Homo sapiens: one gene and its partners. The protein of the gene in region 1 purifies or fractionates together with the protein of each later gene. This does not show direct contact. Each region holds a gene or a part of one and is shown on either strand. Other genes may lie near its edges.

Region 1 (3,648 bases):
GCAGTACTTAACGTTAAGATGAAATGCGAAGACTCCAGCTTTTTCAAATAACACCTCACACGCAGCTGCTTGTTATAATTGATTAGCACCAGCATTTTAACCTTTCATATTCAATCTTTGGAAAACAAGAGATTCTATTTTATCCTGAGAAGCAAGGTAGTAGTGAACTTTTCTGCTACCTTTCACTCCAGGAATCAGTTATGTATTTAGTGACTCACAGAATAGAATTCTCCTTTGTGTCTTTTACACATATGAGCAGAAAGTAGAAATAAGCATTAAAAAATATAAATCAGTATATTTATAGGTTCTAATTTAATTCAAGGGAAACCAGTAGAAAATGTTTTGCCAAGCTGTATTATTTATAGATATGTTTTGCAGTTACGTAAAAAAAGATCAAACAAGTATTCTTTATTTGGTGATTTACTAGTAGGAATTGAAGCAAAGATTTGTGGAGTTGCAGGGAGATGAGCCGTTTCCAGACACTGACCATTGCTGGAGGCTTGGTGGCCTGGAACATGGCGGATAGCAGGTGCTGGCTCCTGAGACAGTTCAGTGGCTGGGTGGGAAGCTTGTAGTCATGCTGATACAGTTAAGTTCCAGCTGAACGGAGGAGCCCTGCCCAACACCCACACTCCCCTTGGCTCTCAGCCCCGCTCCTGTGAGGAGCACATCCCCATCTTTGCCCCTTCGCCACTGCTGAGCTCAGTCTGCCGTCCTTCGGACAAGTACTTCCACTTCCTGCGCGTACCACCTCTATTTGCCCTCTCGCCCAGCTCTTTTAACACTGTGCAACCTGACCTCTGATCCCACCACACTACTGAAGTGTCCTGGTCACCAGTGGCCTGAGAATGCCCCCGTCAGTCCTTTTTTACCTTGTTCTTTACAGCCTTTGTGTGTCAATCATACCCTCTATCTAGAGGGAAAGAAGCAAAGACGGGAACCACACTTAACTAGCAGCAAATATGCCAGGGAAGAAATTAGACCAGCACTGGTCAGGAGACTGGGCCCTCTGGCAGGCAGGGTCACCGTCATGCTGAGGCGCTGCTCGTCTCTGGAGGATGGCTCCCTGGGAGTGAAGGTGACCCTGCCGTGGAGACAGCGCCATTGTCCTCTGAACCCACAGTGTGGGATGTGAACAGTAGTTTTTACTGCAGCAGGCTCTAGTTTTACAAGGTGATTGCCTTCACCCCGAACTTGCCTGGCCTGCAAGATCAAAATGTAAGTGGATTCCAAGCATAAATGTTAGGTGCCCCCTTGTAAGGAATGGAGCATGTTTTCCTAGAGAGAAAACGTCTGCAGCGTTGTAAAATACCCTCTCGGTTTAAAATGCTAAGTCGACCTAGTGGATTTTTGAGGTGAATTTCAGTTTTTAGTAAGGTCAGCCCAGCAGCATGTACTTCCTTTTCCCACAGGAGACTTCGTCGTCGTCTACACTGATGGCTGCTGCTCCAGTAATGGGCGTAGAAGGCCGCGAGCAGGAATCGGCGTTTACTGGGGGCCAGGCCATCCTTTGTAAGTTAAACGAAGCTGAGTTTTACTGAATCATGTTCCACAACTTGTGAAAAGATGAGGCGGGATCTGCTCATTGTTTGATTATTGGGAAAACCTGCAGATAAGTAGCTCTGGCAGGGGTGGCAGAGGAGCAGCTTTGGTTCGTGTTGGGGCTAAGCGGCATTGCTTTTCAGAACGTGAGGTACCTCAGCTTTACTTCCTTTGCTTTTTTTTTTTTTTTTTTTTTTTTTAAGACACGGTCTCACACTGTTGCCCAGGATGGAGTACAGTGGCACAAACACAGCTCACTGCAGACTTCACCTTCTGGGCTCAAGCGATCCTCCCACCTTGGCCTCCCAAACTGTTGGGATTATGGGTGTGAGCCACTGCACCTGGCTTTGGTGTTTCTTTCTTGCCCTGGGGAGGAGTCTTTTTTTTTTTTTTTCCTGAGACGGAGTCTCACTCTATCGCCCAGGCTAGAGTGCAGTGGCGCGATCTCGGCTCACTGCAAGCTCCACTTCCCAGGTTCACGCCATTCTCCTTCCTCACCCTCCCGAGTAGCTGGGACTACAGGCACCTGCCACCAGGCCCAGCTAATTTTTTGTATTTTTAGTAGAGACGGGGTTTCACCGTGTTAGCCAGGATGGTCTCGATCTTCTGACCTCGTGATCCGCCCACCTCGGCCTCCCAAGAGGAGTCCTTTTTTCAGTAGAGATGAAGTCTCACTATGTTGCCCAGGCTGGGCTCAAATTTCTGGGCTCATGCGATCCTCCCACCTTGTCCTCCCAAAGTGCCGAGATCACAGGTGTGAGCCACCACCCCTGGCCCAAAAATTGCTCATTCTTTTAGGAAACTCTGGATCTCCTGGTGACCCCAAATTTTAAATAACTTGTCTAAGGGTTTTTCTGGTTCCTTGATTTCATTTTCCTCTTTTACTTCCTGGAGGTTTTTAGTAGTTTCAATCTGAAGTCTCACTCTCTCCATTCTTCTTCCCGAGTTTTCTCCTGGGATTCTTTCTGCTGCAGCCATAGGGCCTAACCCAGGGTCCGCAGAGAACCAGCTTTTACTTCCTTTGCCCTAGTGGAACCCATGAGAGTCAGAAGGTGCCCAAGTGTGGAAACCTGTGTGCTGCTCTCTGCTGGGAGTCTGTTAGTTTGATTTTTATATGATGCTTTTATATTTCAAATAAGAATACACACTAGTTTATCGTTATCCATTAAGAAGAATCACTTTGAGAATTCACTTTATACTTTTATTTTCTTTTGTACTGTTTTGAAACAGAAATGTAGGCATTAGACTTCCTGGGCGGCAGACAAACCAAAGAGCGGAAATTCATGTAAGTTATCAGATACGTTTAAGCCTCTCTTTTTTGAGCATTGAGTATGAAATTATCAAATAAACTAATTCTTTTTTTTTCTACCTATACATATAAGATATTTGAAGAGAGACGGGTTTAATAACAATTTTGAAAAATAGGAATTTTGTAGAAAAATTCTAAAAACTTATTTCAAATAGATGTCTACACAGGAGAATTGTATGTATAGTAGTGTTTCATACAGAGAATATAATCAGTACAGAGGGGATGTTTCAATTTCGAAGTACTTTTGAACTTTAGTAATGTCAGAGTTGAACATTTTCTGTAGCATGACTATCGACTTGTCTTTTCAAGGCAGCCTGCAAAGCCATTGAACAAGCAAAGACTCAAAACATCAATAAACTGGTTCTGTATACAGACAGTATGTTTACGATAAATGGTAAGCTTTCACATTTGATTTCTTCTGTTTTTCCAGTAACTGTGAAGGGAAATTGGTAGGAGGTGTTGTAACAGGGCAGGACCCAAATGGGAACGGGGGGATGACATTGGTTTGTCAGGTACCGAGCAAAGAGTGAGGATTTTGGAGTCTCCCTTCTGCTGCTCTGATGTTTTCCACATGCTTATTTCTTTGCCAGGCACTGGAGATGCAGTCAGAAGTGGAAGTGGCTCTTACTTCTAGTCTGTGTGTGTATAAGTCACTTAAGATGGCGTGTTGACTGCTTCTTTGGGAAATGCCCTGAATAGGAGCATGTAGGGGATGCTTACGAGGCTGGGGAAGGCTCCTGGGAGAAATGACATCTTAAGCTGACAGCTGTAGGTAGAATACAAGTTAGGGGAAAGGG
Region 2 (3,748 bases), on another chromosome or scaffold:
ACTTTCTGAAGGCTTTCGTTTGTAGGGTGTGTTCCTCTCCCGCAGAGGATATGTTACAGGGGAAGGGCTAAAGAGGCACAAGCAGCTGACAGGAGAGATTGATATATAACAGCTGGAGAAAACCACAGAGCCAGGCAGAATGGATACTGGTCAGCGGAGAGTAAAAGCTGCTGTCCTAGCAATACCTTCCATTCATACACAGGGGTCCTGGTGAGGCTGACATAAAAACAAATATAAAAATCTACTACGAATTTTACAAACAGTCCAGGTTCGACTGCAGATGAGACCACAGCATTTTCTGCCTCAAAAGACATCCAAGTGGAGATGTCACGTAGGCAGGTGAATGTACTATGCACTTGGACCTCAAAAGTGAAGTTTGAACTGGGCTTGTAGATTGTGGAGTAATTAGCTCAGACACACAGGTGTCTAATTGTCCTGGCGGACACCAGGAGGGTCTCAGCGGCAGCGTGATTGTATCGCTGATAAGGAAGAGGCCTGACAATCTGAGTAGAGAGTGGACCCGGTGGAGCAATTCTCATACCTGGATGGACCCACATAGAGCCGCAGAGGCTGGGGGCGAGGCGGGGGGAGGCTCTGTCTCCCTGTGTCCTGAATGCGGAGCATGAACTTAGGCCTTCTACAGCACAAACCTTGCTTCTTTGGGACAGATGTTGGGGTGGGGGAGGCCTGTCACTCAGACGGAGGAGGCGGTGCCTCTGTCCCCAGGCCAGCAGGAGCAGGAGGTGGACTTTGGAGTCCGGAAGACCCAGGTTCAAATTTTGCATTTTCTGTTTCCTGGCTCTGTGGTCTAGTTCATGCAATGTGTCTGTGCCTCAGCTTCCTGACACGCCAAATGGGGATGCTGACATCCACTTCCCAGCGCTGCTGTGAGAGGAAGAAAAGCCCCAGCACAGATCCCTCTGTGACATACAAGCTGCATAAAGGGTAGCTGAGGAAGCAGATGTTCCCAGTATGTCTGGGGGCCAGAGAGTTGGCTAGTGGAGAAGCACACAAAGCGAAGTGCCATCCTCTGGCCATGTCCATTTCGTAGCCCCGCAGGTTGAGGATTTCCACTTGTTGCAGTTAGAGACCCAGCTTATTAATTGTGAGACCTCACTAATTGTGACCTAAGGGGTCTTGCCGGGGAAACGGGGCATAGTGTATCCCAGACCAGGCTGGAGGAGTTTGGGTGAAAGGGCAGGGCAGGACAGAGAAGCATTGTGCAAAAGTGGGGGGACTGAGAAGAGATGATTGGGTGGGTCGAGCTGCACTGCAGGGTATGAGTGTGCGCGCCCGCGGTAGGAGGAGGAGGAGGAGGAGAGGTGAAGTGGATCTGGCGGGAAGAGCCCCCCGCACCCTACCTTCGACCCCACCGCCCACCCACCCGCGGAATCGCATGCGCACTGGAGACCTGGAGGAAAGGGCTTTTGTTGGGAAAGCGGGCGGGCTGGAGGGGTCCGCGCATGCGCAGGCTACCCAGCCGCGGGGGGTGCACGGAGAAAAGGGGCGGGGTGGTCCGGGCTGCTGTGCTGGCAGCAGTAGGCGAGGGCGCGGCTGCGGGGTTCCTGGTGCTGAGGACGGACGCCATTGGAGTTCCCGAGAAGGTAAGGATCCAGCCCCAGACAGGACCGGGAGAGGGCGAGTGGAACCCGACACGCTGCGCCCTCCCTCCGCCTCCGGATCTGAACAAAGCCCAAGCACTCAGAACCGGAACCCCATTAGACCCAAGGTCTAGATAGGAGCCCCCATCACCATCAGACCCAGGCGCCCCGATCTGAGCCCTACTGAAACCGGAGCCCAGGATCCTCACCCCTTTAGCAGACCCGTGTGCTCCGAGCTGAGCTCCCTTGGACCTGAGGCCCCACCCCCACCCCAACCACTCCTAGATTACTCGAACCGAGCTGACCGCTTGCCCCCTTCCTGGAGTGCCCAGTCCTCGCGTTTGAGATCTGCAGCGCTCCGATTGGAGCCTCACCTAGGTCTGAGGCCCCCACTCCATCCGCCTCTAGTGCTCGAGTCTGAGCCCCACCTAGGCCCCCCGCCCGGACCTAGCCAAAGGTCCCTGGGGTTCTGTTTCGCAGAGCTTGCGGCTTGCCACTGTCCCTGTTGTCTGAGCTCTCCCATCTGCTCCCCCTTCATCCCGGTCCCCTTCTCTGGCCCGTAAATCCAAACCCTTTGTTTCTCTCTTCCCCAATGCATTCCCTTTGGGACTCTTCGGACCCCAGCCCTCCAGAACACCCCCTCGTCAAATCTAGCCGCTGGGATGGCGAGCCTGCCCATCCTAAACTCCGCTTTCAGTGCGGCGCCTCCTGCGACCTCCTCTGTCCCTTTCCTTGGGCTCTGTCCCTGACCAGGTCTACCCCATCAGAAAGCCAAACCGTCTCCCCCCCGCTCCTCCTCCCCCCCCCCGCCCCCTACTGCCTAATATTGCCTAGTAACCTGATGATTGTCGCCCCTCACCTCCCGGGAGATCCCGCCTCCCATTGGATCCCGCCCCCTCCCCCTGCAGCTGCTTCACCCTCCCTCTCAGGCTGAGCTCTCATCTCCCTGGGACCCGCAGCATGGCTGAGGGAAGCTTCAGCGTGCAATCGGAAAGCTACAGTGTTGAAGACATGGATGAGGGTAGCGACGAAGTCGGGGAGGAAGAGATGGTTGAAGGCAACGACTATGAAGAATTCGGTGCGTTTGGTGGCTATGGCACCCTCACCAGCTTTGACATCCATATCCTCAGAGCCTTCGGAAGCTTGGGTCCAGGCCTTCGCATCTTATCGGTGAGGCCCCTTCCTGGACACCTGCTGGCCTGGGCCTTTCCCCTGTGAATGGGGGAGGGAGGAGGGGGGAGCCAGGAGGGTTGTGTGGGAAAGGACTGCCCAGCTTCCCAAGCCTTCCCTCCCCTGCTCGGAAGAAGAAGATTTGGGAAGGTCTTGGGGTGTTCAGGGCTGACTGCTGGGAAGAGGCTGGCCAGCACAGGGAAGCTAACACAAGTATGTCGTCGAGTGGCCTGCCTTCCCCAACCCCTCTCTCTGGCCTTGCAGAATGAGCCCTGGGAACTGGAAAACCCTGTGCTGGCCCAGACCCTGGTGGAGGCATTGCAGCTGGATCCGGAAACACTTGCCAATGAGACGGCCGCCCGTGCTGCCAACGTAGCCCGCGCCGCCGCCTCCAACCGTGCGGCTCGGGCCGCTGCCGCCGCTGCCCGTACCGCCTTCAGTCAGGTGGTCGCTAGCCACCGGGTGGCCACGCCGCAGGTCTCAGGAGAGGATACCCAGCCCACGACCTACGCCGCCGAGGCTCAGGGGCCCACCCCTGAGCCACCCCTTGCTTCTCCGCAGACCTCCCAGATGTTAGTCACCAGTAAGATGGCTGCCCCCGAGGCTCCGGCAACCTCCGCACAGTCCCAGACAGGCTCCCCGGCCCAGGAGGCTGCTACTGAGGGCCCTAGTAGCGCCTGTGCTTTCTCTCAGGCTCCGTGTGCCAGGGAGGTGGACGCCAACCGGCCCAGCACAGCCTTCCTGGGCCAGAATGATGTCTTCGATTTCACTCAGCCGGCAGGTGTCAGTGGCATGGCCTTCCCGCGCCCCAAGAGACCTGCCCCAGCCCAAGAGGCTGCCACAGAGGGCCCCAGTGCTGCCTCTGGTGTGCCCCAGACGGGACCTGGCAGGGAGGTGGCAGCCACCCGGCCCAAGACCACCAAGTCGGGGAAGGCGCTGGCCAAGACTCGGTGGGTGGAGCCTCAGAATGTTGTGGC
Region 3 (3,648 bases), on another chromosome or scaffold:
ATAAAAATTAAAATAAATTAAATAAATAATTAGCCAGACATGGTCGTGTGCATCTGTAGTACTAGCTATTTAGGAGACTGTGGAAGAAGGATCACCTGAGCCCAGCAATTCACTTACAGTCAGCTATAATCATGCTGCTGCACTCCAGCCTGGGCAACAGAGTGAAACTCTGTATCAAAAAGAAAAAGAAGCTAGGCACGGTGGCTCAACCTGTAATCCCAGCACTTTGGGAGGCTGAGGCGGGCGGATCACCTGACGTTGAGAGTTCGAGACCAGCCTGATCAACATGGAGAAACACCATCTCTACTAAAAATACAAAATCAGCCGGGCATGGCGGCTCATGCCTGTATTCCCAGCTCCTCAGGAGGCTGAGGCAGAATTGCTTGAACCTGGGAGGAGTAGGTTGCAGTGAGCCAAGATCGCACTACTGCTCTCCAGCCTGAGCAACAAGAGTGAAACTCCGTCTCAAAAAAAAAAAAAGAATTTACTAATGTAGATAAAATAACACAACTACTGAGTACTAAAAAAATGCAAATTGAGATCAGAAAGAAATGCCATTTTACAACCACTAAACTGCAAAAATTAAACAGTCTGATAATACAAAGTGTTGGTGAGCGTGCAGACACTGCTATGGGACTTTACCAAATAGAAACAAGAAGACAACATTACAAAATTGTCTTGCGAGGATAAATACGGGTATCTCCTATAAACCAGCAATCCCTCTCCTAGGAATATACCCAAAATAAATCCTTATCCACGTGACAAGGAAGTTATGCAAAAATATTCATATTGTCTGCAGTAGCAAAACTAGAATCAATCTAAATGTCTATGAATAAAGCAAAGATCGTTTGAGAATTATTCAAGCAGCAATGAAAACTATATGCAACAACCTGGGCAAACAGAAACATGATACTGAACCAAAAAAATCTAATTTTAAAGACTCTACACTATGAAACCATTCAAAACTAAGCAAAAATAAACACTGTTCAAGGACTCATAAAAATGTAATTAAAATTTTTAAAAGCAACAAAATGAGATAACACATATTATCATTTAGGACACTGACAGGACGCTGGACACAACATATAAACAGTACTGGCTGTATTCTAGCTCTGAGCTTGAGTGGCAGGATAACAAGCAACTACCTTATTATTTTGCTTCATAACTTACGTATGTTACATTTTTCTTGTTAGTTCAATATTGGGTTCTTCGCAGTAGGAATAAATCAACATTAAATAAAACTTACATCTAATTCAAAAAACAGGTCTCTTTCTTTACTTGCAATCTCATAATCTGCTCGGAGGGCCAAGTCGTGGATTTTGGTACATTCTCCTAAATCCATGCGCTGTGGGAAAGAAACAGAAAATGCAGACCTCAGTGCCTACCTACTGTAGAAAGCACACAACGCGACTTGGTGTTTCAACTGTCACCAACAGAAATGATCACTTTTGGAACACTGACACTGCAATAAGAAAATTAAGAAAGGAGATATGGCTGAGAAGCCTCATTTCACTTTTACCATCGTGACTACGTGATACTTGAAACTGATGCATTTAATAGTGTAAAGTTTCTATTTTAGACCCAGAGATAATTGGACTGTAATCATCACAACTACATTAATTGGCTTTTGCCAGTTTTTAAGGAGTCTCACCTGTCACCCAGGCTGGAGTACAGTGGCGCGACCTCAGCTTACTGTAACCTCTGCCTCCGGGGTTCAGGCAATTCTCCTGCCTCATTCTCCCAAGTAGCTGGGATTACAGGCACGTGATACCACACCCAGCTAATTTTTTTTTTTTTTTTTTTTTTTTTTTTTTGTATTTTCAGTAGGGACAGGGTTTCGCCACGTTGGCCAGGCTGGTCTTGAACCTCTGACCTCAAGTGATACACCCACCTTGGCCTCCCAAAGAGCTGGCATTACAGGTGTGAGCCACGGTGCCTGGCCCAGTTTTATTTATGCATCAGTCCAAGGATTCAGTAAATGGCAGCATGTGGGGTGGCAGGGATAGGAAACGGCCAGGGCTGGGCGTGGTGGCTCACGCCTGTAATCCCAGCACTTTGGGAGGGTGAGGCAGGCGGATCACTTGAGGTCAGGAGTTCAAGGCCAGCCTGCCCAACATGATAAAACCCAGTCTCCACTAAAACTACAAAAATTAGCCAGGTGTGGTGGCAGGGCACCTGTAATCCCAGCTACCTGGGGAGCTGAGACACAAGAATCGCTTGAACCCAGGAGGTGGAGTTTGCAGTGAGCCAAGACTGTGCCACTGCACTCCAGCCTGGGTGATAAAGTGAGACTCTGTCTCAGAAAAGGGGAAAAAAAAAAGGAAAGGGCCAGAAAACAGTCTCACTGCAACAAATTTCTAGGCATTGTCTTGCAATCTTGACTACTTGAGATGCTCGATGCTTAAGATGCAGAGACAGAGGAAGAGGAAAGAGCGGACAGAAGTTAGATTTTGGCAATTACATCACAACCTAACACTTGGCTTTGTGTAGCTGATTGTGTATCAAAGGGAATAAAGGAGAACAGGCTGGTTCGTAGCCAAATACATGCTCTACACATTTTCTTAGCCTGGGAAATGACCCTGGACATCTAAGTGAGGACAGATAATTGTCCCACTCAGTTCCTCCATTTGACAAGCAAAACGTTCCATTACTAAAACAAAATGATTTATGTTGTCAGTAAGAACAGCATGATGTGCTATTATGTGTACCATATGCAGTACAATTAGAAAACAGTGTATGATTTTAATCTAAATCCTAAGTATAGGACTCTATGCAGACACCTTCTGCCTCTCGCCATCTACACAGCAACAGGGAGGTTTGTGTGCTGAGGATCATCGTGTCAAGTTATAGAGTGCATGTTAACAAAACCCAACATCCCAACTAGGAGACACCCCCAGTAGGACAAAAGAACATGTCTACATAACCAGAAAAAAAAAAAAAAAAAGACGTTAGTACCAGTTGCAGTGGCACATGTCTGTAATCCCAACACCTTTGGGAGGGCAAGATGGGAGGATCACTTGAGCCCAGGAGTTTGAGACCAGCCTGGGCAACATAGCAAGACCCTGTCTCTATGAAAAAATTAACAATTAGCTGGGTGTGGTGGTATGTGCCTGTAGTCCCAGCCACTTGGGAGGCTGAGGGGAAGAGATCGCTTGAGCCTAGGAGGTCAAGGCTTCAAGTGAGCTGTGACTGAGCCACTGCACTCCAGTCTGAGCAACAGAGACCCCTGTCTTTTTAATTTTTTTTTTTTTTTGAGATGGAGTTTCGCTCTTGTTGCCCAGACTGTAGTGCAATCTCGGCTCACCGCAACCTCCGCCTCCCAGGTTCAAGCGATTCTCCTGCCTCAGCCTCCCAAGGAGCTGGAATTACAGACATGTGCCACCACGCCCAGCTAATTTTGTATTTTCAGTAGAGATGGGGTTTCTCCATGTTGGTCAGGCTGGTCTCGAACTGCTGACCTCAGGTGATCCACCCACCTTGGCCTCTCAAAGTGCTGGGATTACGAGCGTGAGCCACCTCGCCCAGCTTTTTAAAGAGACCCCGTCTTTTAAAAAAAAAAAAAAAAAAAGAAAGGAAGGCTTTAAACCTTTAATCCATCTTGAGGGGGAAAAAAATAGAGAGGCTTGCATGTCTGACTCTTGGGATGCA

What was found.
Region 2: the proteins of RNASEH1 (region 1) and MAGED4B purify together in Homo sapiens (affinity purification with mass spectrometry, with the first as the bait; one large-scale study listed by BioGRID). This does not show direct contact.
Region 3: the proteins of RNASEH1 (region 1) and LUC7L purify together in Homo sapiens (affinity purification with mass spectrometry; 3 studies listed by BioGRID and IntAct, with this or other methods). This does not show direct contact.

The regions. Positions count from the first base shown.
Region 1 is NC_000002.12:3,548,237-3,551,884, reverse strand, and holds part of RNASEH1 (ribonuclease H1 isoform 1 precursor), read left to right. Parts: intron 1-1,412; coding exon 1,413-1,512; intron 1,513-2,772; coding exon 2,773-2,827; intron 2,828-3,160; coding exon 3,161-3,245; intron 3,246-3,648. UniProt on the Homo sapiens protein: Endonuclease that specifically degrades the RNA of RNA-DNA hybrids.
Region 2 is NC_000023.11:52,066,986-52,070,733, reverse strand, and holds the start of MAGED4B (melanoma-associated antigen D4), read left to right. Parts: upstream 1-1,550; 5' UTR 1,551-1,604; intron 1,605-2,509; exon of another isoform or gene 2,510-2,530; 5' UTR 2,531-2,561; coding exon 2,562-2,771; intron 2,772-3,035; coding exon 3,036-3,748. UniProt on the Homo sapiens protein: May enhance ubiquitin ligase activity of RING-type zinc finger-containing E3 ubiquitin-protein ligases. Proposed to act through recruitment and/or stabilization of the Ubl-conjugating enzyme (E2) at the E3:substrate complex.
Region 3 is NC_000016.10:219,403-223,050, forward strand, and holds part of LUC7L (putative RNA-binding protein Luc7-like 1), read right to left. Parts: intron 1,346-3,648; coding exon 1,247-1,345; intron 1-1,246. UniProt on the Homo sapiens protein: May bind to RNA via its Arg/Ser-rich domain.